Linked DNA regions of Homo sapiens. The protein of the gene in region 6 purifies or fractionates together with the protein of the main gene of each other region. This does not show direct contact. Each region holds a gene or a part of one and is shown on either strand. Other genes may lie near its edges. The genes, in order: PLA2G4E, QSOX1, GBP2, ACP7, RAB18, SSUH2 and SERPINB8.

What was found.
Region 1: the proteins of SSUH2 (region 6) and PLA2G4E purify together in Homo sapiens (affinity purification with mass spectrometry; one large-scale study listed by BioGRID and IntAct). This does not show direct contact.
Region 2: the proteins of SSUH2 (region 6) and QSOX1 purify together in Homo sapiens (affinity purification with mass spectrometry; one large-scale study listed by BioGRID and IntAct). This does not show direct contact.
Region 3: the proteins of SSUH2 (region 6) and GBP2 purify together in Homo sapiens (affinity purification with mass spectrometry; one large-scale study listed by BioGRID and IntAct). This does not show direct contact.
Region 4: the proteins of SSUH2 (region 6) and ACP7 purify together in Homo sapiens (affinity purification with mass spectrometry; one large-scale study listed by BioGRID and IntAct). This does not show direct contact.
Region 5: the proteins of SSUH2 (region 6) and RAB18 purify together in Homo sapiens (affinity purification with mass spectrometry; one large-scale study listed by BioGRID and IntAct). This does not show direct contact.
Region 7: the proteins of SSUH2 (region 6) and SERPINB8 purify together in Homo sapiens (affinity purification with mass spectrometry; one large-scale study listed by BioGRID and IntAct). This does not show direct contact.

What each region holds. Positions count from the first base shown.
Region 1 is NC_000015.10:41,993,543-41,997,042, forward strand, and holds part of PLA2G4E (cytosolic phospholipase A2 epsilon), read right to left. Parts: intron 1,955-3,500; coding exon 1,818-1,954; intron 107-1,817; exon of another isoform or gene 16-106; coding exon of another isoform or gene 14-15; intron 1-13. UniProt on the Homo sapiens protein: Calcium-dependent N-acyltransferase involved in the biosynthesis of N-acyl ethanolamines (NAEs) in the brain.
Region 2 is NC_000001.11:180,189,369-180,192,868, reverse strand, and holds part of QSOX1 (sulfhydryl oxidase 1 isoform a precursor), read right to left. Parts: intron 3,318-3,500; coding exon 3,195-3,317; intron 2,437-3,194; coding exon 2,289-2,436; intron 1-2,288. UniProt on the Homo sapiens protein: Catalyzes the oxidation of sulfhydryl groups in peptide and protein thiols to disulfides with the reduction of oxygen to hydrogen peroxide. Plays a role in disulfide bond formation in a variety of extracellular proteins.
Region 3 is NC_000001.11:89,112,615-89,116,114, forward strand, and holds part of GBP2 (guanylate-binding protein 2), read right to left. Parts: intron 1,683-3,500; coding exon 1,402-1,682; intron 71-1,401; coding exon 1-70.
Region 4 is NC_000019.10:39,083,060-39,087,167, reverse strand, and holds the start of ACP7 (acid phosphatase type 7 isoform 1 precursor), read right to left. Parts: upstream 2,801-4,108; 5' UTR 2,768-2,800; exon of another isoform or gene 2,656-2,767; intron 2,623-2,655; exon of another isoform or gene 2,077-2,622; 5' UTR 1,899-2,076; coding exon 1,778-1,898; intron 1-1,777.
Region 5 is NC_000010.11:27,524,804-27,528,303, reverse strand, and holds part of RAB18 (ras-related protein Rab-18), read right to left. Parts: intron 1,477-3,500; coding exon 1,415-1,476; intron 1-1,414. UniProt on the Homo sapiens protein: The small GTPases Rab are key regulators of intracellular membrane trafficking, from the formation of transport vesicles to their fusion with membranes.
Region 6 is NC_000003.12:8,624,299-8,627,798, forward strand, and holds part of SSUH2 (protein SSUH2 homolog), read right to left. Parts: intron 3,486-3,500; coding exon 3,400-3,485; intron 2,024-3,399; coding exon 1,931-2,023; intron 1,350-1,930; coding exon 1,244-1,349; intron 1-1,243. UniProt on the Homo sapiens protein: Plays a role in odontogenesis.
Region 7 is NC_000018.10:63,987,081-63,989,874, reverse strand, and holds the end of SERPINB8 (serpin B8), read right to left. Parts: coding exon 2,597-2,794; 3' UTR 501-2,596; downstream 1-500. UniProt on the Homo sapiens protein: Has an important role in epithelial desmosome-mediated cell-cell adhesion.

The DNA.
Region 1 (3,500 bases), on a different chromosome or scaffold from region 6:
CTTCTTAACTTACATGTTGGTTGTCGGGGGGAGCAAAACAAAGAGGTGATCCCACTAGCCCTGGGTCTGGCCTCAGTCTGCCTCTTCTTGGCCTGGATCCAGCTTTTCTGCGTCAGGACAGGAAAGGGCCCTTTTCATTCTGCGCCTGAGAATGACCTCCCTGGCAGTGCAGCTAGTCTGCGGCTGCACATTTAAGGAAACAGGGGCCTCCTCCCTCACAGGACTTGCTTTTGGGAAGGTGGGAGGTGGTCAGGAGACTTTTCAACAAAAAGCACCCTGCTCTCCATAAGCTTCACCCATTCATTTTATACTTTAAAAAAGCTTCCAGAAGCCATTGCAAATGAGTTTTTAAAAGAATACGACTTGTGCTTTCCCCAGGCCAGGGGACCCCACCCATCCCACCCCGGCTGGGCCTGAGTTCCTCCTGCTATCTGTCTATCGCATAGTAGTCCGGGAGGACGCAGGTGCCCCTCAACCTGCTGGAAGCAAGTTACCTTCTTAACCTACTACCGGGGGCAGCCATTTAGCATGGAGGTTAAGGATGTGGGCCCGGGACTAGGTTCAAATTCTACTCCACTGCTCATTAACTGAGTGTCCCTGGCAAATTACTCTGTTTCTCCAGCTGAAAAATAATGACAATGCCTCTCTCATAGTTTTTTGTGAGGAAGAAACAAGATGAGCCATAGGAAGCAGTGACTCCAGTGCTTAGCAAGAGGCAAATGTCTCCTTCTGTCTCACCTGGGCTGGCGCCTCTGCCCCCCGGGGGGGTGTGTGGCACAGGAGCCCTTGGCTTTCCAAGGCCCATTCACATCCATTTGCTCACACGGGGGCTACCCAGAGCTCCTCCAGTATACAAGGCACAGCAAGGGACCTCAGGGCTCACAGGCCCACCAGTCACAGACAGGACACGGCCCTGCTTGATAGGCCACCCTGAACCAGGGCCACGCAGGGTTTTGATGGGCCCCACAAAAAATGTTTATATGTTTTTTATTTTTGTTTTTTTTAAAGACAAGTCCTCCCTATGTGGCCCAGCCTGGTCTTGAGCTCCTGGCCTCAAGCAAGCCTTCTGCCTCTGCCTCCCAAAGTGCTGGGATTACAGATGTGAGCCACCATACCTGGCCACATAAAAAATATTAAAATTTATATTTCATGCTGGCCACATAAAAAATATTAAAATTTATATTTCATGACTGTTGTATAAAGACAAATGTATTCATATTATTTATTAAAACATTTTCTTCAACCTATAAGTTTGTTAATGAAATGATCCTGATTTTAAAAGAAATTAACCTATTTTTGTGGGCCCCTAAAAGTACAGTGAGCCGCAGGCACTGTGCCTTCTGTGGGTAAGCTGACCTCACCCTGGCCTCCCTGTGGGGGAACCCAGTGCTCAGCCCCTGGCCCTGCTCACCAGCAGAGGGTGAGAAGGAGGGAGCTCAGCTGCAGGGCCCTGCCCGTTGCATGTCCCCAGCAGTATGGGGTCATGTTCCTGGGTCCATACCACAGCCCCAGGGAAACAGTAACACCAGGAAAGGCCAGGGCATACAGTGTCTCTGGCATACTTAGTAGCGGGAGAGCGTCTTACACCCACCGCATGAGGTCAGAGCTACTGTTATCCGCACTGTGCAGATACACAAGCCGAGCCTCCAAGGAGTCAAGCTGCATGCCCAAGGCCACACCACTGCATGTGGGGCACTTCCCAGGCTTCAGGAGTCACTTTGTCTTTGGGTGGCGGGGAGGAGCTTCACCTGAGACCCCAGGCCAGCCTGTTCGTGGCTTGCCCTGGGCTCCACAGACAGTGGCTCATGTCTCCTTACCAGGTGGCCCCTGATAGACCGGTGATGTAGCTGGCACAGTCCAGGAGGTTCAGCTTCTGCAGCCCCAGCAGGTGGCCATACATGGAGGTCATGGATCTTGTTCCACCCCCAGTGGCCATGATGGCTATCAGCGGCACCTGGGGTTACACAGAGGCAGGCGGTTGGGGAAGGCTCCAGAAGCAAAGCTTGGGAGAAGACTTAGAATGACGGCAACTTTGAAAGAACAATGGAGGAGGCAGAGCTGGCTACAGAGGGCAGGGAGTGCGGCGTTGAGCCACCTGACACCTGCCTTTCCACAGAGCAGTGGGTCTAGAAATAGACCTCAGCTCCACACCCAGAAGTTGGTGTCAGTGAAGGACTCTGAAGCCTAACACAGGCTTGGTAAATCACAGAAAGCTGTGGCTAGCAGAGTTCTTAGCACTGTTAGTCTAGCCCTCGGTTAACAGGTGATAAAACTGGGGTCCGAGGGTGGTGGGCAGCTTGTTCAAGAACCCTACTAATGTGCGATCCCTCAATGGGACAAACCAACATCTTCTGTAGCTGGATCTGAGGGAAGGCACCAGGCCTGGCACATGGTGCCTGCTCAGCAGGTACTGTACTGGCAAGGCCAAGAGTCAATGGACTGGTGATGTGGGAAGGAGCAGGGTTGCCAGCTCTGGGTCAGCAGAGGTTTAAGAGGCCCCTGGAATGTTTCCCTAAAGATAGGGCCAGGTACAATGGCTCACACTTGTAATCCCAGCACTTTGGGGGGCCGAGGTGGGCAGATTGCTTAAGCCCAGGAGTTCAAGACCAGCCTGGGCAACATGTAGAAACCCCATCTCTACAAAAAAATACAAAAATTAGCCAGGCATTGTGGCTCATTCCTGGAGTCCCAGCTACTTGGGAGGCTGAAGTAAGAGGATTGCTTGAGCCTGGGAGGTGGAGGCTGCAGTGAGCTGTGATGGTGCCACTGCACTCCAGCCTGGGTGACAGAGCAAGACCCTGTCTCAAGAAAAAAAAAAAAAAAAAAAAAAAAAAAAAGGAGGGAGGAAGGGGCTCTTTGTCAAGACTCATTCTGTCTGTTTTCCTTTGAGTGGGGGCTGTAAGAACCTTCCATTGGCTAAAGCGCTATTACAAGTCCTCCTCGGGCACCCGCCAGGTCTCTGTCCTCACCTAGGGTCAGCCTCAGAAAGCAGGCGCTTGGAGGGCTTGCCTGCTGCCCAGGCGAGTGTGGGCCTTGGTCCACACAAGGGAGGCAACAGAGGGCTGTGACAGAGGCCCACCGTCTGCTCCCGTGGGAAGAAGGGGCGGTCTGGCCCTAGGAGTGCAAGTTGCTTCTCTCCAGCTTCCTAGCGCTGTTATTTCTGGGAGTGTGTTTACCTGTGCGGATTTGAGAGGAGAGACAATTGAGGAAAGAAGGACCTAAGGCCTTTTGGGTGGAGGTGTGGGGTGCAGAAGGTGGTACAGCTTAAAATGTTTTCCTGGCTGGGGTGAGGAGGGCATTTTATCCCTGAGTAAGGCCCCTTTAGCCACAGCAGGAACTCTTAGTGCTTGGGAGGAGGCGCTGGGGCTCTGTCCTTTCTGTCTCCATTTTGCTCTCCCCTTCTCTTGTGAATATAAAACAGAATCACTTCCAGCACAGCTCTCACCAGGGCGCCTGTACCTCAGCAGTAAAAGCATCCATGGAGGTGGCGCCTGGGGTAG
Region 2 (3,500 bases), on a different chromosome or scaffold from region 6:
AGCACTCTTCTCTACCTCCCTGCCAGGGAGCTCATCCAGTCCCACAGCTTGAGCTCTGATGCTACTAATGACTATAAAGCTAATCTCTCTATTCCCCACCTCTCCCTGGAACTCCAGACTCAACTGTGCACACCTCCATTGGGAGGTCTATTGACACAAAGCGGGCCATTGATTCCACCATCCCAACCCGAGCCCCTGACTCCTCAGCTTATGGGACCATCATCCACCAGAGGCTCAGGCCCCACAACCCTGGAGTCCACCCGAGTCCTGCTTCCCACATACCCTTCCTCCAATCTATCAGTAAGTCCCTCAGCTCTGCCTTTAACATATCCCCAAATCTGACCACTTCCTCCAGGGGCACACTGACAACCCTAGTCCAGGCCCAACCACCACTGCTGGGCGAGCATGCAGCTTGCTCCTCAGCTGCCCTGCCTCCCCCTGCCTGCAGTAGCCCATCCTCCACCTTTCTAAAGTGTTAACCAACTGTCACTTCCGTTAGCCTCTCCAGTGGCTTCTCAAAATGCCAACACCAACCTCCAAACCCTGCCCTCGCCAAGGCCTCTGAGCCCATGAGCGCTCACCTCCGCCCCCGGCCTGTCTCTGCAGCCTCACCTCCCTCCCTCCGGCCACAGCAGCCTTCTTTCAGTGCTGCCCACACACCAGGCTTGTCCTTTGCACCTGCTGGTCTCCAGCCTGTGCTATGGGCTGAATTATGTCCCCCCAAATTCCTATGTTGAAGCCCTAATCCCCAGCCTCTCAGAATGTGGCCGTATTTGGAGACAGGGTCTTTAAAGAGGTAATGAAGGTAAAATAAGGTCATTAGGGTGGGCCCTAATCCAATAGGACTGGTGTCCTTGCAGGAAGAGGAAATTTGGACATGGATTGGGAGAGGGACAACTGCACGGAGACACAAGGAGAAGACGACCACCGCCCAGCCAAGGAGAGGCTCGAAGAAACCAGCACAGACACCTCCACCTTGCACTTCAGCCTCCAGAACTCAGACAACAGACGTCTACTGGCTGAGCCCCAGCCTGACATTTGTGAGTGCAGCCCAAGGACACCAACACAGCCTGGGAGACTCTCTTCCCAGACGTCCCACACTGCCTTCTCCTCTCCACATGGGTCCCAGCACCGGGCCCTCCACAGGGAAGCCTTTCCCAGACCCCTCTCCAGACAGCACCCGCTCCGGCACTGCTTTGCTTTGTCTTCCTCAGCATTCGTCATCATGGCTGAAGCCATCCCTCTGTGTCTGTCTCCTGCCACTCAGATACTGGCCCTGTGGGGGCAGGGACCTGTCTCATATGCTGCTGTGTCCCCGGCACCTGCAGCGCCACATGGCATGGTGGAGATGCTCCATACACACTGGCTTCCCACACCACTGCCTGGCAGTTCCTCTGATTCACGGGGCTCCACACAGGCTGCTCCCTCTGCTGGGATGCTCCTCTCCTGGCGGAATCCCTACTCACCCATCACCCCTCAACTCACCCCGTAAGGCCTCGGGCCCCTTCCCAATGGCGTCGAGCCTGCCCTCTCTTCACCCCACATCTTTCTCTCCACCACGGCCCTAGCCCTGATGCACTGCAGGCCTCTCTGTCCCCCTGCCTCACACTAGAGGTCCACCAAGAGCGGGCACTGTCGCCCTTTTCACCCATGTATCTATCCTCCAAGCCAAGCCGCAGCCTGGTATAAACCTGGTTCCTCAATCAGTGTGGACTGAATTGGATGCGCATCCTTTCAGTCTTCAAAAGCAGGTGTGGGGCAGCGTGGCCGGAGAACATGGTGGTGCAGTTTGTGGACAATCCGAGGCAGCAGGGGAAACGTGTTTCCCCAACTTCCCCCAGGAAATTGTTTTTCAGTGGGAAGTGCAATAAAATTGCTCAAAGCACCTGCTATGTATCAGCTATGTAAACTGTAAAATACACGTTTTTTTCTTTGTTAAGAGTATAAAAAAATAGAATCACAATTTTTTCATGAAGACTGAAAGCAAAGCAAACTATAAGCCCGGAGAAAGACAGGGAGAAGCCTCAGCCCCAGAGCTCCCGGGGCCGAAAACAGGACTGGTTGAATTCCTAAAGTCTGCTCCCTCCTGGGATTGGTTCTATTCTGGCCGTGTGGGGCTACCTGCAGATAGAGCAATCCAGCCAGAGCCCCAAGGCTGACTCTCCCCATCTTCTGGCAGCTGGGAGCCAGTGGGGCAATTCAAGGGAGCTTCCCTGCCCCCTCTCCCCTTGGAGGGCCGAACAGAGCAGGGTTGGAGGCACAGTGGGGTGAACGGGTCCTGGACGTACCTGCTTCCTGTGAGTGGTCTACATTTTGCCGAGCTGCCTGCACAGTCAAGAAGTGGAAGAGGACCCACAGGGAGCAGGGAAAGCCCCGGAAATGCGGCTCACTCCCCTGGCAGCCAATCCAGTTCACCTTCTTGGCAAGAACGGCACCCTGAGGGACACATGAGTGTGAGTGCACATATGGAGAAGGAAAAGGATGGGAGAGGCAGAGACAGAAGCTTCTAGGAGACAGCCCTAAGACAAATGAGGTCCCTCAGTCTATCACCTCGAAGGTGGCATTTCCCTTTCACCAGTTCCACCCACTGAAGCAGCAGCAGACCTAAAAAGCTGTGACCCAGATCAAGCTGCATCCCGTTCCAGCCTCAACTTCCCCAGCTGTAACACAAGGGGGTTATCTCTGAGGTCCCTTCGAGATTTGACACCCTACAAGTCTACAGGGTTTTACACCTCTGCTGGCTGCAGTGACCCACTTTTGCAAATAGCAGCATGAGCAGGAGCCCAGAAGGTGCCCTGGAGAGGGCCAGGGAGGCCATGCTGAGCAGCACCACAAACTAAGAGGCAGCACAGGGTAGTTGTTAAAAACTCTGGGGTCTCACCAAGTTTTCATCCCAGCCCAAACACTTACTGGCTCCATGAACCCAGACAAGTTGCTTAACCTTTTCAAAGTACTGTTTCTTCATCTGCTAAATGGGGAGAATATCTACCTTCCACTAACATTATGAGGATTAAATGAGATGTGCGCATAGAGAGCTCAATCAATAGTCATTTATTGATTATTGTTAGGACCCAACGAAGATCACTGACTCCCTGGTGCAAACTGGCGAAGAAGGTCAGAAATGACAGGGTTAACCCCTTGCACTCTCATAAATACGGAGGATGGAGAGATCTTTATTTGCTTCCCAGACTCACCTCTTTCCTGTCGTCCAGGGCAGTTTTAAAGAAACTGTAGGGAATTTTATTTCTCTTCTGCCTCTTGAGCCATTCATTCACGGAGTGCAGGAAGTTCTGGACTAAGGGCCGGCCAGGGAAATACTGTGGGGAGGAACAAGCGGAAGCTGGAGAGTGAAAAGCAATTCCCCAAGTTCCCCGTCCTGCAGATGGTAGGAAGCTATGCAGAAGAAGGCGGGGGGCGGGGGGCGGGGGGCAGTGGGGAGGAGGTTGTGCAAAGTTCCAAAACCACCAGGAAAACATTCTAACTAAGACACAAATATGACT
Region 3 (3,500 bases), on a different chromosome or scaffold from region 6:
CCATGCAACAATCTGATGATGCTTTGGAATTCTGCTTACAAAAGTCATCTCGCCTTGCTTCCAACTGGGCCTGTGAAGTGACAAAACAGCACAGATGTTTCAGTAAAGCCATGAGGAGGATGTTAACTATGTGGAGACTGGAAAATGCTTCTCCTTCAGAAATTGTGGCCCTCTAAATAGGGCCATGCTCCTCACATTGCTGTTAGATCCTAGAATATCCCTAAGTTGTGCTTATTGCAGAAATTTATCTACTTCTCTGTTTGTGATTTCCTAAAGCTCCTTTCTCCCAGTTTTCCTGTTTCAGAGAATGATTCTCAAAGCACATACACTATTTCATACGAAACTTTTATCTTTCCAAGTCTCTCATTTCAGGAATAGTTCTGAGCACAAACACTGGAGTCAGGCAGCCTGCCTGGAGTTCCCGGATACACTACACTGTGGCTTGTGACACTCAGTCTTTGTGAACTGAGGATTCCTTGTCTGTGCAGCAGAGGAACAATACCTATCTCACAGATTTCTCTGCAGGGTTATATGAGGTGATGTAAAGTATTAAGCCCGGGGACTTTTTAGAAGTGCTCAGTAAGGAGTACATGATTATTTAGTACATTCTTTAACATAAGAATATTTTTGTGTATTTTCTCAGCATAGGGCTAATGAAAGTAATGAAGATTGTGCCATAGGTATTTTCAGTATTTGGAAAGTCTCATAGAACAGCACATTTATCTACATTAAATCACTCAAGATAACTTAACTATGAAGCTTTCTCTTTCCTCCTTAGGTTGGAAGGGTGACAATTGCTGACATCGGCTATCTAGCTTCACCAGAACCTCTGACTGTAGCAACGTATCATTTATAAGATCCTGCCTTCCTAGCTAGGGAAAGGACTTTCATTTGTCAAGTGGTCATTCTGCATGCAAAAATACTTTGTTCACTTGGAATGAGGCAGACATTAAAAACATTCTCTAATAAAATTTATATAATTAATTTCTCTTTCTTGGCCTTCTGAATATTTTACCATTGGCTCACATTTAAAAAAATTATTAGGGTTATTTAAAAATAATTTAGTCCCCACTGATAATTACCAGGGAACATAAAAACAATGTATTTTTTAATTTAAAAGGACAAAATAAGTTAAAATAGTCTTTAACAATGCAGTTGTACCATCTACTTACTTTCTTAAAATATGGGACCCAGAGAGGAAAAACTAACAAAAGCAAATTTTAGTAAAAAATTAGGTGTCTTTTTTTAAAGGTCTAAGGCTATGCACATTCTAGTCTTTTAATGATTATTTCAAATATGTACACATAACTGAGTGTAACTATTTTGGGGTCTAGAAAGAATTATTTTCCCATGAAGGGCCCATATTTTTCTGCCTCTCATGACGTAGAACACCAAATATACCCCTAATTTCCTCTGGAACATTTGGTCCACATCCTTGAAAGAGTTCTTCATGAAGACTTCAATGGCCTCTCTCTCACTGTCCCTGTGCAGGTCCAGCAGCTCCTGGAGGGTTTCCGTGGGCAGCTGCACCTTCTGGCCCATCTGCTGTTCATAGTGGGCAATAGCCTTTTCCACTGCGGCTGAGTTCTCTATCTGGGCCAAGGCCAGGACTGCGTTCTCCATGCAGGGTAGATCCCCACTGCTGATGGCATTGACGTAGGTCAGCACCAGGCTCTCTAGACCTGCAAAAGGGAATTTTTAAAAAAATGTGACTATCAGTTGGTGGGACAGAATATTTTGTGTGCTTTTCAAGTGAGTGTCACAAATAATACTTTTAAATAAGTTTTGGATAAAGAATAGTAATGGAATAATTTGTTAACCTCTAATCACAGAGGAAATTGAAGTGGCTCTTTCCTATTTCCTTCACCCAAAAGGAAGATATTGAAATGAATAGGTTAGGATATTTTGGGGCTGAGATACTAGGTCAATGTGTTTTCTTACCTTTCTTTTCTCTCACCTCTCCCTCTATTCCCTTTCTCTCTTCACTACTAATTTATGAAAAAAGTCAATGAGAAAACTTAGCCTTTTTATTTTTATTAATTTTAGTGGTGCAGACCACTAGTCACTAGTCTGGTGTCTGGCTTAGGTAAATATGTCTTCTTAGATATTCTCTCATCAGAACTACAGATAGGATAATCAACTCATCGAGTTTGCCAGGGCTTTGCTGGGTGTAGCACTGAAAGTCTCACATGCCAGGAAAACCTCATCTTAGGCAAACTGGAGTGGTTGATCACACAACAAAAGATGATTCTTTTTGACTCAATCCTGGACCTTCTCATCTCTCTGCGGTTTTAAGTACCATCTGTATGGATGGCTGGTGTATTTTGTTTCCTGCTTTGACATTTCTTTTAAGCTTTGGATTAAAAATAAGTTTTGCACCTTATTTTTAATGCCTATCTTATATTCCTTACTGCATAAATCAGAAGAATCTCAATATTAAATAATCTAAATATCAAAACTTCATCCACTCTGAAAAACTATTTCTCCTCTTGATGCTACTATCTCATTAAATAACACAGCCATTCAAGCAATTGCTAAACTCGAAACGCTGGAGACAGGCTTGGCATTTCCTTCTTATTCCCTTCATAAATCCATATTCCCTCTATCAACAGGCCTTTTAGATTTAATATCCAAAGTATGTTCGGATCTTGTCCATTTTCACCATTTTCACTGTCATAATCTGAGACTAACCCAATGCCCATTTATGGCTCAACCACTGCAAATAGCATCCATCCTCTCATTCCCTCCCTTTCACTACTCCAACAAATTATCTACAAAATATTCAGAAAGATATGTATAAACATAAATTAGATAACCTTACCTCACTGCCAAAAATTCTTCAAGATCTTCTCTAGAGCTTAGACAAACTCTAATCTCCTCAAAGTCCTCTGCCAGTCCTTTCAAGACCTGACCCCTTTATACCCCTCCAATTATGACACCACTCTTATTCAGTCTTCTCTTGTTCCAATCGCCTGTCTTTCTTCTATTTTCGTTTAAAAAATTGAGATGGAATTCTGGTCTGTCACCCAAGCTGAAGTGCAGGGCATGATCATAGCTCACCATAGCCTTGAACTCCTGTGCTCATGCTGGGTCCTCCTGCCTCAGCCTCCTGAGTAGCTAGGACTCTGGGCAAGCACCACTGCACTTGGCTGATTTTTAATTTTTTCATAATGATGAGGTCTTGCTACTTTTCCCAGGCTGGTCTTAAACTTAAACTCCTGGGCTCAAGGAATTCTCCCACCTTGGCCTCCCAAAATGCTGGGATTACAGGCATTAGCCTCCTGTGTTCTATTTTCTTGAAGTTGCAAAGTTCTATCCTGCCCTATGCATTTCCACATTACATTATTTGCTATAAAGCTATTCCTCTATATGCTTTGGTTAGCTCTTAACCATTTATTTAATATATATATATATTGGAGACAGGGTCTCACTCTGTCTCCCAGGCTGGAGTGCGGTGGTGCAGTCTCCGCTCACTGCAACCTCTGCCTCCCAGGCTCAAG
Region 4 (4,108 bases), on a different chromosome or scaffold from region 6:
TGGGGTGGTGGGTGCCTGTAATCCCAGCTACTCGGGAGGCTGAGGTGGGAGAATCACTTGAACCCTGCGGGGCAGAGGCTGCAGTGAGCCAAGACTGTGCCACTGCACTCCAGCCTGGTTGACAGAGCGAGACCCTGTCTCAAAAATAAATAAATAAATAAAAGATTTTTAAAAGATGCAAGTCAATGCCACTTTCCTCACTCAATTTCTTCTTTTGCAAAATACAGTTTGTTCCTTAAAAATATCATATACATTAATACTGAAGGTGTTTGTTATTGTTAATTTTAAATGACAATAAAAAATTTTAAATGCCTCAGTTTTAATACCTTATTTAGTAAATATTGCTAGCTGTAATGCACATAAACTAAAGCTCTTTGAACTTCTCCATAAATTTTAGTTCTCCATAAAATTTAGTGATGTAAAATGGTCCTGAGATTAACAGTTTAAAACAAACAGTCCTGAGATTTAAAGTGTATGGAAATTGCTGCTACATGCCAAGCTCCGTTCTATCCCCCTCCCCCCCCCCTTTTTTTTTTTTGAGACAGGGCCTCATTCTGTCAGCCAGGTTGGAGTGTAATGGCATGATCTTGGCTCATTGCAACCTTTGCCTCCTGGGCTCAAGCGATCCTCTTGCCTCAGCTCCCCAAGCAGCTGAGACCAGGCGTGAGCCACCATGCCCAGCTAATTTTTTAATTTTTTTGTAGAGACCGGGTTTCACCCATGTTACCCAGGCTGGTCTTGAACCCCTGAGGTCAAGTGATCCACCCACCTCAGTGTCCCAAATTGCTGAGATTACAGGCATGCACCACTGTGCCTGGCCTCCTCCACATTTTTTTTTTTAAAGACAGGGTCTCTCTCTGTTGCCCAGGCTGGAGTGTAGTGGCCAATCATGGCTCACTGCAGCCTTGAACTCCTGGGCTCAAGCGATCCTCCCACCTCAGTCTCCCAAGTAGCTGGGACTATAGGTGCATGCCACCACACCTGTCTAAGATTTTTTCTTTTTCCCTAAGAGGCAGAGGTCTCACTATGTTTCCTAGGCTGGTCCCAAACTCATGAGCTCAAGTGATCCTTCCGCCTCAGCCTCCCAAACTGCTAAGACTACAGGTGTGAGCCCCCACACTCAGCCTCAGTTCTGCCCCTTTACAGGTAGCAACTCATTTACACCTCACCATGAGGTTGTACTAATATTACCCCATTATCCAGATGAGGAGACTGAGGACAGAGAGGTTAAGCCACTTGCCCAAGATTAGGCAGCAGGTACATAGCAAAGCTGGGATTCTAACCCACGTGGTCTGGGTGCCAATGGTCCAGAGTCCAAGCTCTTACTCCCACAGTGGAAGGATCCTAATCAAAGATCGGGAGGCAGTCAGCCTCGTGGGGAAGAGGAGAAGAGGGATGGAGAAGGGGCTGGGTAACCCAGCTCTGTTATCATTCATCCACTGGTTCCTTCCACAACTGGCTCTGAGGCCTACCGTGCATGAACGAACAAACGTGCCAGGTCCCGGAAACACAACAGAGATGCAATGAACAAGGACAGCAGCGGTCCCCTTTTGAGAGCAGGGGAGCACTCTCTGTGGGCTGAGCACCATGATCATTCCCCACACTTCCAGGTGTTCCACAGCCTGTACTTCCTATTCCACAGAGGTGGATGATGGAGGCTCAGGAGGAATGAGCCACCCGCCTAGGGGCTCACAGTGTGGGATTCCTGAGCCCTCAAACAACGAAGCACCGCTGGGCCTCTCTGGTAGAGGCATAGAAATGAGTCAGGGACACTTACCTGGGTAAGACAGATGGACTTGCTCTGGGGCAGCGCTGGGAGCCCCCAGGGACCCCTGGACTCCCAAGGAGAATAGCAGGAGTAGACAGTAACAGGACCAGTAGCCAGGAAGGGGGTGCATGGTGGTGGGGTGGTGATGGCAGACCGGGGAAAAGCAGGGGGACTGAGGAGATCAGCTCCCCACAGGTACAGCAGGAAGGGCTGGGAGGATGGGGAACAGAGGATGATCAGGCAGTGCTCTGGGGGACAACAGAGGCAGGGCAGGGAGGTCTCCTTCAAGATGGGTGGTTATCCAGGTGCTGGAGAGAGAAACCAAAAATAAGAATCGCTAAGGAACAGCAGCAGAGCTCTCTGAGCCTCACTCACAGTGTGCCAACCGCTTGACATAGATTAATTCACGGAAGCCTCACGACATTGCTATGAAGTGGTGGCTGTGAGCATTGTCATCCCCATATCACAGATGAGGAAACCGAGCAGCTGAGTGATTCAGCTGCACAGCTAGGATGGGATGGAGCCAGGATTTGAACCCAGGAGGGCCTGATTCCAGAGCCTTGCTCCTAACCAGAGCTCACTCTCAGTGCTGGGGGTCTGGGAGCGGGGTGGAGGCTGTGTAGGAGGTTGCATTCCGCAGCCCCATCCCCAGCTTTCCATCCTGCTGTTAGAAACCCCAGTTCTCCTACCTACTCCCGAGATTCCAAGCATTCCCGCCTGCCCCCGGGACCTCGCCTCCCTACTCCATCCTTAGCCTTCTATTTTGCTCCTAGTGACCCCAATCCTCCCACACCACCCCCAGATCCTTTAGAGCCCATCATGGCCAGAGCGGCCGCATCCTCTCTCCCCATCCCCAGCGTCCCTGCCCTTCCCCCATCTGTACCCACCCCCCTTCTCTCCAGCGCTTTCCCGCCTGCTCCAGCTCCGTCTCCAGCTGCCAGGATGGAGCCGGGTCGGGACCATCCGGGAAAGGGGACGCCCTCCCGGACCCCGGCTCACCCTCGGGGGCGCCGGCTGCCCGCACGCGCCTCTCCCGCCACCAGCGCCGCCCCGGTATTTATGAGTTCGCGGGTGCCGAGGCCTCTTGCCGCCTACAGCCGTCCCAGCCCCGGAAGAGCCGGTCGCCTCGGGGTGACAGCCTCCCTAGACAGCCAGGGCCCCGGGTCCCACAGGTCCGGCCGGTCCTGCCTGGGCGCCCCACACCCACCCGCCCACCCCACCAGGGCGTGGCGCGGGAAGGGGGACCCAGGAAGGTTATGATACGTCTCCGGCGCGCCACCTCTGAGCCGGCCACCAGGTGAGAGCCCAGGCAGGTAACCCTGCGCTCGTCCCTCAGGCGCCCACTCATCAGCTGGGGAGCCCCAGGGCACGGACACCGGCCCCTATCCTGGCCCTGCCCGATCCCCAGGTACCCAGGTGTGCAGGACCGGGGGATCCCCAACCTTTCCAGCCTCGCTGCATCTTCCTCCAGCCTTCCGGCTTCCTTCCTTTCCATGCTGAGCCCACTGACCCCTCCTCAGAAGCCCGGGGCAACCTCAAAACAAAACCAGAATCCCGGAATTGCAGTGGGCTTTCTGAGCTGTGCGACCTAGGTGAGTTATTCAACCTCGCTGGACCTTGGGTTTTTTCACCTGTAAAAAGGAGGTGATGCTCGTATATACCCCGTGGGCTGTTGTGAGGAGTAAACGAGTTGCTGCATGAAATTTCATGCCGATAACAGGGCCCGGCCCAGAGTAAGGGCTGGATAAGAATCAGCTGTTCTTTTTAATCGTATTAATGCAGGAACTCCAGAAACTGACGTCTAGGGAACAAGTTAGGGTTCTCCCCTGTAAACCTTTGCAATCTGTTTGAACGTGAGGAGCGGCTGCCACAAAAAGAGAAGCAGGGAAGAACTGGGGGGGCCCGGATTTCCAGTCGTTTCCCCTTCCTGACTGCAGATACAATGACCCGCCACCACTTGGCTTTGTAAATTCAGAGCACATAGGCTTCTACTGATTGTGGACACCAATTTCAGAAATTGGCACTAGGAGTGTGGGAAAATCAAAACGAGCCCTTTGCACTGTTTGAGTTTTTTTTTTTTTCTTCCCACTTCCAGAGTCTCCATTACAGCCTAAAATATAATGAAAGTAGCTCTCATAACCAAACTTGAGTACCTGCCACTCCTGTGGCCCCCAATTATAACCTCCCCGTATTCTTAGTTCGTCCAGAATGGGAGGTTCCTAAGCTTTTTTGTGCTAAAGATGCCTATGGCAAGCTGGTCAAGCCCTTCTCAGGATCATGTCGTTACATGCATAATATAAATACACAGAAATACAAAGGAAACCAGTGCTATTGTGATAC
Region 5 (3,500 bases), on a different chromosome or scaffold from region 6:
ATGTTTATAGGCCTATGGTAAAAATGTCTCTTCAATAATACCTGCCAGCCTTTTTATTAGGCAGGAACTAGAAAATAAATTTAAAACAAAACGAAACTATGAGAGAAAAATCTCACTGCAACCAGCAAGTCTCAGATACTACTCTAATCTACGGATTTCACAAAGCAGCAGCAAGGCCGGAAAGGGATAATAAATTAACCATGAAAAGCATATGGAAATCAGGCCCCCACTTTAGTATGGAAAAAGCCAACATTCTTATATCGTTCAACACATTTTACCATACTCTAGTCCAACATTTTCCAAATTGTTTTCTGTTAGACATTACCGTTCTGATTGATATTAAACATATTTGGGGGAAAGGGGCAAACAGGTTAACAAATTTAAAGTATTGTATGTTAGGAAAAACTGACATAAAAACATTAAACACACTTACACAATTATTTGTTATTTGGGGATAAATGTGTATTAGAAACAGTGTGCCATTCAGAGAATGCCAAGAAATATGACATCATACAATGCATGAACACTTGCTGTTTTCAATCTGTGACTGATGTACAAACAGCATTTACCATTTAACCACCATGTGGAAATAAGTCTCGATTTGATGACTGATCAGTTCTAATATGATTTCTTATATTACAAACATATATGTATAATTATCACAGTCTATGTGAAAAATAGATATATAAAACAGTATATATTTAGAATATACATATATATATATAACCGATCATATTTAGATAGACAGATATAGATAGATCGGTATGTGGGTGGGTAAATAGACTGATGAAAGGGAGACACAGAGAGAGACAAACATAGACACTAAGCATCTTGGATATTTTTGACAGTTAATGCTACCTTATTTGACACTAGCATGAGCGGTCTAGCTAGTACAGTAACGGGGATCAGAATGGTTGGATTGACAGGAAAACGAAAAGAAGCCAGTAAGGAAAAACGAGGCATTAAAAATAAGCCCAAAGTTTGAAACCTCAAATTTTATAAATATCTATACTAACAAACAAGAAAAATAAAATTTTTTCCTAAATATCACGTCATTCCTCCTCCCCTTAAAAATTGTCTTTAGTGTTAGTTCAGTCTAGATGGTCTTTTTAAAACTTCAAAGAAACATATCCAATTATGATTCTCTTTGGCAGATGAGATGATTTTTTAATATTCTGTTCTGTTTTGAAATATTCATAAAGAATTATGCATTGTGAAAATTTAAACAAAACATAGCTGCCTAATTACCCAATTATAAGACATTACTGTTTATCCTTTAATCAGTATCAAATCTCCCAAAAGTTATTTAATACAAATTGTTCATTCACCACCTCTAGAACACTACACAAATCAATTTCTGCATCCTTAAAAAGTAAAGTTTAATATTTTAAAAATACATTTTAAAAACTCTTACCCATATTGCAAGTTTAGCCTTATTTCCATCCACTGAAATTGTTTTCACCTTAAAGTCAACACCTTAAAGAAATGAAAATTTTGATAAGTCTCCCAGTAAAACAGACTTTTAAAATCCATTACCAAGAAAACCAGAAAACAGAAAAGTCACTATTATCAAATGCCCAATTCACACCCCAACTTCTTAGAATTCTGGATGTGGAGATAAAAAGTGTCATTAAAATCCAGGATCTTAGGATTTAATCAGGATAAATGAAAATCAAATGCTTGTAGAATTCACTCACTCACCTACCTTCTATTCTTCCAAAAAGGAAAAACGAAATTCAATTTAAGGTGATAACTCACTATGCGTGTTAAAAGTCAAGAGCTGCAATTACAATGCTCACATAAAGAAGACTATCCATGGCTGACTGTGGGTCATGGCAGCTTCCAGGGGCTCCCTAAGCATCCACATGCTACTGTTAAGAGTGCTGTCCACTGCCAGCCAACCACTAACTCAGATCTTGACTGTAAGCAGCTTGGGGAACCGGTAAAAATATTAAAGGGCCACTCACTCCTTGTCATATAATCTCTTTATTTTTATCCTAAAAAAATACTATTTTTATGTAATAACCTAATCAATAACTTGCTACAGCACAATTTCAATAAAACAATTTATACATGAAAACATTTATATACAACCATCTAAGAATCTTCATAAGTGAAAGAGGAGTGCCCAAAGTTCTATGAAAAGCTTCTATAAGTACTAATTTATGTAAAGAAAAGAGTTTCATAAGAAGTCCACAAGGCTTTATTACAGCAGCCAAAAAAGAAACCTCTCCCTTTCCAGGAAAAGGAGTTGACACATGCCATCTGGCTTAAATGAACAGCAACTGCCCACATGTCTTTCAAGAGTTCAGTCTACCCCACTGGCCAGAGGGAAAACATTAGCTCAAGAAGCTTGGAAAGAAACTTTCAAAATATCTTATTAGCTTGTCACAATTAATTCAGAACAGCCCCAACTAAGATGAACAGCACCCTCACATACTAAATGCTTAATAGAACACCTGTCACCAATATGGAAATATATTTGTAATTCTTGGAAGACTTGTGGTGATCCATTACATATACAAATTCAGTAATAAAAATGCACATTCAAAATGTGCATTATGCCAGGTCTTTCTGTATACCAAATATATATATTTTTAAGTTTGGTGTTTTGAGCTGGGGTGATAAAGGAGTTGATAAAGCCTAGAATGATGGGCAACCATTAGTAAAAGGACAGTGTTGATTACATAGCCCAACAAAAACCTAAATATAAAATTTCTTCACAGCCAAACAAACAAAAAATCCCACATGCTAAATAATCTTGTATTAACCAGGTCTAAATAAAGAAGTTACTATGCCATTTTAAAAGTGGAACCATCTACATAAACAACATGAAATTATCTACATTTTCTTCCTATTGCTTTAAAAAAAAAAAAGCAAAGCACAAACCCTGAGAAAATTCAGAGGAGGAAAATGGTTCTGACTTGGTGCAGGTACTAAATGACAGCCACTGGCAGACACTACACAGAGATAGCCTCTGTCATGCACACTCTACAGTTAAATTCTCAAGGTTTTTCAGGGAGTATATAAAGAACTAATTTTTTTCCTTAATAATCCCAGATACATGTTCAAGAGCAGACAAGCATCTTTCCTATGAGCTAATTTGTTTACCCAAGAAAAGAAACCCACCGCTTCCAGAATGTATGTGTTTTCTTCCCATACCCCAACTCCTCTTTCTCTATTATTATTTCCTGGTTCTGCAAGTTTGTTGTGAACAGTCTAATGACTGTCTCTGACATAAGAATAATTTGCATGTGGATAACTAACAATGTCTCTAAGTTATGCTTTTGACATATTATATCTGAAACTTACCAATACCCATCCACAGGAGACACTGAACACTGTCGTCCTGCCATCAAAGCCAACAGACACAGGTAGCCTGAAGGGGCACCTAATCTAAATCCAGACCCCTAAAGTCCCCAGTCATCTTCCCTAGGTTCCTCTGGTGAATCTCACATGCAGCAATTGAGCTCTTCAGATCTCACATGCTAAAACTGCTT
Region 6 (3,500 bases):
GTGGACGCTGAGGGTGAGACGGTGGTCAGAGCTCAGCACCAGGCAGGGTCAGCTCACAGAGCTGCCAGCAGCCAGTGACGCCTAGGGATGGTCCTCAGTCTGAGCTGAGCCCAGGGGGAAATCCCTAACTCAAATGGAAGAGTGGGGTGCAGGGCTTCTGGTGGGGGGATGCCTGAGGTGAGCCTTTAAAAAGCCAAATTACTGGAGCAAAGAAAGGAGGCTGACACACCTCCCTATAGTTTGAGGACCCCCATCAGAAGTCCCATTGAAGCCAATCTCTCTGCCAAGGCCAACGGCAGAGTGAGAAAACCTTTTCTGCTAAGAACCAAATAGTAAATACTTCAGGCTTTCAGACTATGTAGTCTGTCATTATCCAGCTCTGTCCCACCATCAGGAAAGCGGCCATAGACAACCTGTCAGAAAATGCGTGGGGCTGTGTTCCAATAAAGCTTTATCGACAAAGGCAGGCAGTGGGCTGGGTGTGCCAACTCCTGGCCCGCAGGACCCTCTCCTCTGGCTGAAGGTACCTCTCACTTCTGAGCTCCTAGCTCTGCCCTGCTCACTGCCCTCTGCCAGTCCTCAAGGCCTCTGCCCCACTGTCCCCTCGCTCCCACGCCACAAGGTCCACTCCCCAATTGCCCTGCATCCAGGTCTGTGCCCAAGGTCACTTCCACAAAGAGGCTTTCCCACCTCCAGCTGGAACGACACTGCCACCCCTCCCTGCCCCTTACCCTGCTTGAATGTTTCTCAGTGCCCCTTCACCATCTGACATTGCTATAAAAGGGTCCATCATAGTCCCCTCACCAGACTGTAAGCTCTATGAGGGCAGGGTCCTTGTTTTATTTGCCATGGTCTACCCAGGGCCAAGAATAGTGCCTGATATAGGAGGAGGGTCTCAAGATTTGTGGAAGGAAGGAGGGGATGAGGAAGAAAGGGAAGGAGGGGATGAGGAAGGAAGGAAAAGAGCGAGGAAGAAGGGAGGGAGGGAAAGAGAGAAAGAGAGTATTAGGAAGGAAGAACGGCATGGTGGGTGGGGAAGGACAGAGGGCTGAGTGTGTAAAAGTCAAAAGGAAACTGACAGCCCCCAGGCTCCCCACAGCCTTATCCATGTCTGGGGAGCTCTGCTCCTACACAACCTGTCCTTCCAAGGAATGCAGCCTGCACACACAGCTAGCAGCCCCAGGCCCACGAGAGCAGAGGAGGAACCCAGCTTCCTTTGTTCCCATCTACAATGCCCTCTTACCACCGAGTTTTCATCCTTAAAGAGGTTTTCTCCTTTGGCTTTAGCAAGGAGCTCCCTGGGGCAGTTGAGCCGGTGCTCAGACACAAACTCAAACAAGCTGTTCTTCCTGGAGGGAAGGAGGATGAGGGATGAAAGCACACAGTGTGGCAGGTTAAAAGCATGGCCTTTGCAATCAGACAGACCTGGGGTTGAGGGCTTGAATTGCTACTGGAGGGACCTTGCAACAGTTCTGTAGCCTCTCTGAGCCTCAGTCTCCTCACCTGTAAAATGAAGCTAGTAAGGAGAGTGACAGTTCAGCTCCATTACCTCATTTCATCTTTGCCTACAAAGCACTTAGCAAGGTGCCTGAGACAGGAGAAACCTTTAATGCACGGAAGCCCTGACTGACTTAGGGACGTAGCAGGATGCTATGGCTCTATTCCTACGGGAAGGGCTCAGTTGTGGAGCGGCTGCTGCCCTAGAAAGTGGTGATGGCAGAATTTGGACTGAGGTCTGTCTGTTCTAAAGCCAGTCAGCATCCCACAACCCCACACTGCCTCTTCCAAGGGAATTCTCCCCCTTCTAAGTCCTGGCAGGTTCTTGCACTGTGAAAGCCCCAACCAACCACAGTTTCTCTGCAGAAGCCAGTCCAGGGCTAAGTCCCTCAGCCACCCCCGCATGCCACAGCATTGAGACACTGCCACATACCACATGATGACAAGCTGGATGAAGTGCAACAGCTTCTTCTCCCCCTTGCAGGTGGCGCAGGTCTTGTTCCCTCTCCCTGAGCAAGTGCTGCATCTGAGAAAGGCACAGAGTCCGTACCCCCAGATCAGTTGCAGGTCCTGGTGGCTTCCAGAGGCTCCCACCTGCACCCCCTTCCTCCTGGAGGTAGACTGTGGTGGGCCTGCATTGTTTGTACCTGCCCACCACCTAGTCCTCCTTCTGCTGGCAGTGCCCCAATATCTCTATGGGGATCACCCTTCCCCCACCCAGCCCACATGGCTCTAGGGCCTGCCCCCCCCCCTCCCCCACCACTAAATTCTGTGAACAGCTTGGGATCTGGGACTGGCCAATCATCTTATTCCATGTCCCTGGTCTCAGTGGCTGATACAAAGATGGGCACATGACCCAGGCGAGTGCAATGAGATCTGTCCCAGGATGTTTGTCGGGACTATCGGGAAAGGGACATCTTTTCTCCTGGGATTAGTAAGCTTGGAGCTACTGGTGATCTCCTCTGCCACTACAAGGAACCCCCTGCCTGCAAATGAAGCCCACACAAAGGAAAGCAGAGTGAGAGGTGGATACAGATTCCTGGTGGTGTTGTTTAAGCACCCGGATCCAGCTGGGCCTGAAGCCATCCCTGAAATATACCCCTGGACTTCATTCTTACCTAGGCCTGTAAATCGACTTTTTTTGCCAAAGCCAATTTGAATTGGATTCCTTTCACTTGCAAATGAAAGAAAAATAAGTGTCTTTTTCCCAGTCAGAGACTGTCTCTACCAACCACGATGGAAGGTGCCACCAAAGCTTCTCCAACTGGCTTGTCAGAAGGATGGCCTGGGCTTTAATGAGGCAAAAGTATCATTAACCAACCCAACCTTGAGTATTTTTACTCCTCACGGTTTCCTGTTTCCCTTAAAAAGTTATAAATACACTAAAGGATAGGATTTACAAAATGCAATGGCCCAGTGTTTGCAAAGCTGTGAGCAGTGATGAAATTTTGTTTATTGTTTAGTCAATCAACCAACTTTCCTTGACTCCTCCTCCATTCAGACCCCAAAATGAGTTATAAATAGGGGCTTGCCCAGGAACTGATCCTCAGTGAGTTAAAAATCTGGCCTTTAGGTGGTTTTTGATATTCACTTCCCAACCCGTGGGCGGGAGAGGTCTCCTTTCCTGGTAACCCCGTCCCTGTGTTTCCTCCCTGCAGTGGCTCTTTCTTCACACTCTTTCCACATATATTGCATGACGAGTTCCAGCCTTGTCCAGAAATGCCAGGCCTTGAGAAAAGCTCACCTACTCTTCAAATAACCACAGAGCACCTACTACGTGCAGAGCTCTGGGGACACAGCAGTGACGAGACAGATGGGTTCCTGTTTGCCTTCCAGATGGGCAGGCAATGAAAAGCCAGAAAGCAAGAGCACTTCACCGCGGTGCTGGGGAGATGCCCCTACCTTCGCCTGCCGGACCCCGCGCACAGCTGACATCTCCGGGACTGCTTGGCTTTGCGCTTGGCTCCGCAGCAGGATGGGCACCGCACCTGCAGACACACCAC
Region 7 (2,794 bases), on a different chromosome or scaffold from region 6:
GCCTCCCGGGTTCACGCCATTCTCCTGCCTCAGCCTCCCGAGTAGCTGGGACTACAGGCGCCCACCACTACGCCCAGCTAATTTTTTGTATTTTTAGTAGAGACGGGGTTTCACCGTTTTAGCCGGGATGGTCTCGATCTCCTTACCTCGTGATCCGCCCGCCTCGGCCTCCCAAAGTGCTGGGATTACAGGCGTGAGCCACCGCGCCCGGCCTAAGCACATTTTTTTAAATGCTGAACATAATTAGGCATTAGGGAAATGCAACCAAAAGCCGGTACACGCTGAAAGTAACAACACTGGTAGTACCAAGTATTGGTGAGAAGAGAGAAAAACCAGAACTCTCCTAGGCTTTACTGGGAATGTTAAATGATACAACCACTTTCAAAGGCAATTTGGCAGATCCTTAAAAAGTTAAACTTACACCTTCCATATGACCCAGCCATTCTACTTCTATGTATCTATATACAAAAGAAATGAAGACATATGTCCATACAAAGATGTATATATATAAATATTCATAAAAACTTTATTTTCAATAGCAAAAATCTTGGTAACAACGTAAATGTTCATCAACAGGTAAATTTGTTCATCAACAAATCATGGTATACCTATACAAAAAAATGTTACTTACCAATAAAAGGGATGAACTATTGATACATACAATAACATAAATGAATCTCAAAATAATTGTACTGAGTGACAGGAGTCATACTACAAAGCATAGATGATGTATGGTTCCATGTATGTAAATTTCTTTAAAAATGCAAATTAATCTATAGTGACAGAAAGAAGATTGGTAGTTGCCTGAGCAGATCAGTGGTTGGGATGGGACGGGGAGAGGGAGAAGGAAGAGTGAGAAATTACAAAGATGCAAGAAGGAATTTGGGAGTATGATAGATAGGTTCATTATCTTGAATATAGCGATGGTTTGTTTCATGGAAAATGTGTCAGAACTTATTGTAGAGGTTAAATATGTGAAATGTATTCTGTGTCAATTAAAGTGTTCTTCAAATTAGAGGTGGAAGTGAGAACAAAACTCACAGATGTATACCTTTCAGTCCTGTGGATTAATTTTGCCCAAACCTGCTTTGGAAAACATGATCCCTAAATGAATGTGGCCTAACAGATATATCCTGGCTTGGTCAAATTTAAGTAAGAGCTGTAATATGAATGGTTCATGTAACTGTTAACTGTCAGTCAAAAACAGAGTCAGGATTAACCACTGTTCAGTCCAACTCATTAAAGAAATAATAAAGCAGGCAGCAGTCAGTGGTGGTATAAACAGTGACATAAGTGAGAGTACAAACCAGTGTAACTTTCTAGGGACCAATTTGGAAGAAGTCTCAAAATGTGCTCAACTTTTATCTCAACAGTACTATTGTTAGGAATTTTAAAAAATATATTAAGGATGTGAGCAAATATTTAGTATATCCAAAACAGCATAATATATATTATTAGCAATCTATTATTTGTTAATAGAAATAATTTTAATTACTCAAACTGTCTAAAATTAGATTCAATTATAGAAATCCAGCCACACAGTGGAATACTATGCACATCAAATTGATGACCTGGAAAGATCTTAAGGGAGGTTTTTCATAAGGGAAGAAATAAGCTACTGAAGGATATGATTAACTTGTAGTAAAATGCTTATAAATTTCTATTTGCATACACATAATAGGGAAGGATGTATATCACTATTAACAGCAGTGATTGCTGTGTGTTGGAATTGTGGGTGACTTCAATTTTTTTGGAGACTTTGCTGTAGTTTCCAAATTGCTGCCACAACGCAATTTTATTTTTAGGCAGAAAAAAATTAATGTATATGGAGGTTCTTTCTTAACTAAGGGGTGTGCTTGAGCTGTGTCTGAGCACATATGATTAGTTAGAGGACTCAGTGGTGTGTTGCGTAAGTTCCTTTGGTATTTTGTGTGTTTCAGAGGGAAAAGGAATGGAAAGAACAGCATAGCAAGCTTCAGATATTTGCCTCCTAGCTCAGTCCTAAAGTGCATTGCTGAGTCCCTGAACTTGTATCTCAGGCTTATGGAAAGATGAGAAGGAGCTGTCTTCATTACAAACTGTGTGAGACAGGGGGCATGCAGGGCTGTCTATGTGACAGTGACAGAAGCAGATCACTATTTCAGCTGCACATGAGACACAGGGTGGCTGCAGCTTTACTCTATAGGGTTTGCCCTTGGCTTTGTGTGCAGTGTCACCTGGGCACTAGTCCCCTGTTCAGCCTGGCAGTGGTGGTGGGCAGAGCCGGGCGGATGGAAGAGGGCTGGCTCCTGAAGCCCTGAGATGCTCCATAAGATCCCCTGAAACAATGGGCACAGACTTAGGTGAAGGCAGAGGCAATGGCAGGCACCCCAAACACTCCAAAACCAGCATAGCCTTCCCAGGCCCAAATTTCATGCATCTGCGGCCTCAGTTATTCTCAATGGCTCTGGAACTTTCAGCAAAGACTTTCACACACTATCCAGTGCACACGCTTTATTTTGGCATTCAAGCCACTGCACCAACTAGGTCACAGGGAATGTTAATTAAGGCAAGATAGGTAGAAGGAAAGGAGGGTATGTACAGCAATTGCTCCTCTTTACGGAGAAGAGAACCTGCCACAGAACAAGATGCAGTTGGTTTTGTGGTGCCTGATGAAGAAAAGAAAAGGGTGGTCTGCACAGAATCTTGGCTCCATTCTGCTGCACCGGGAATTCCTGACCACAGCAGTGGCTGCGGCAGCCTCTGTGCCTTCCTCATTGACCTCCACGAAGCACTTGTGGGCAACCTTGGACAG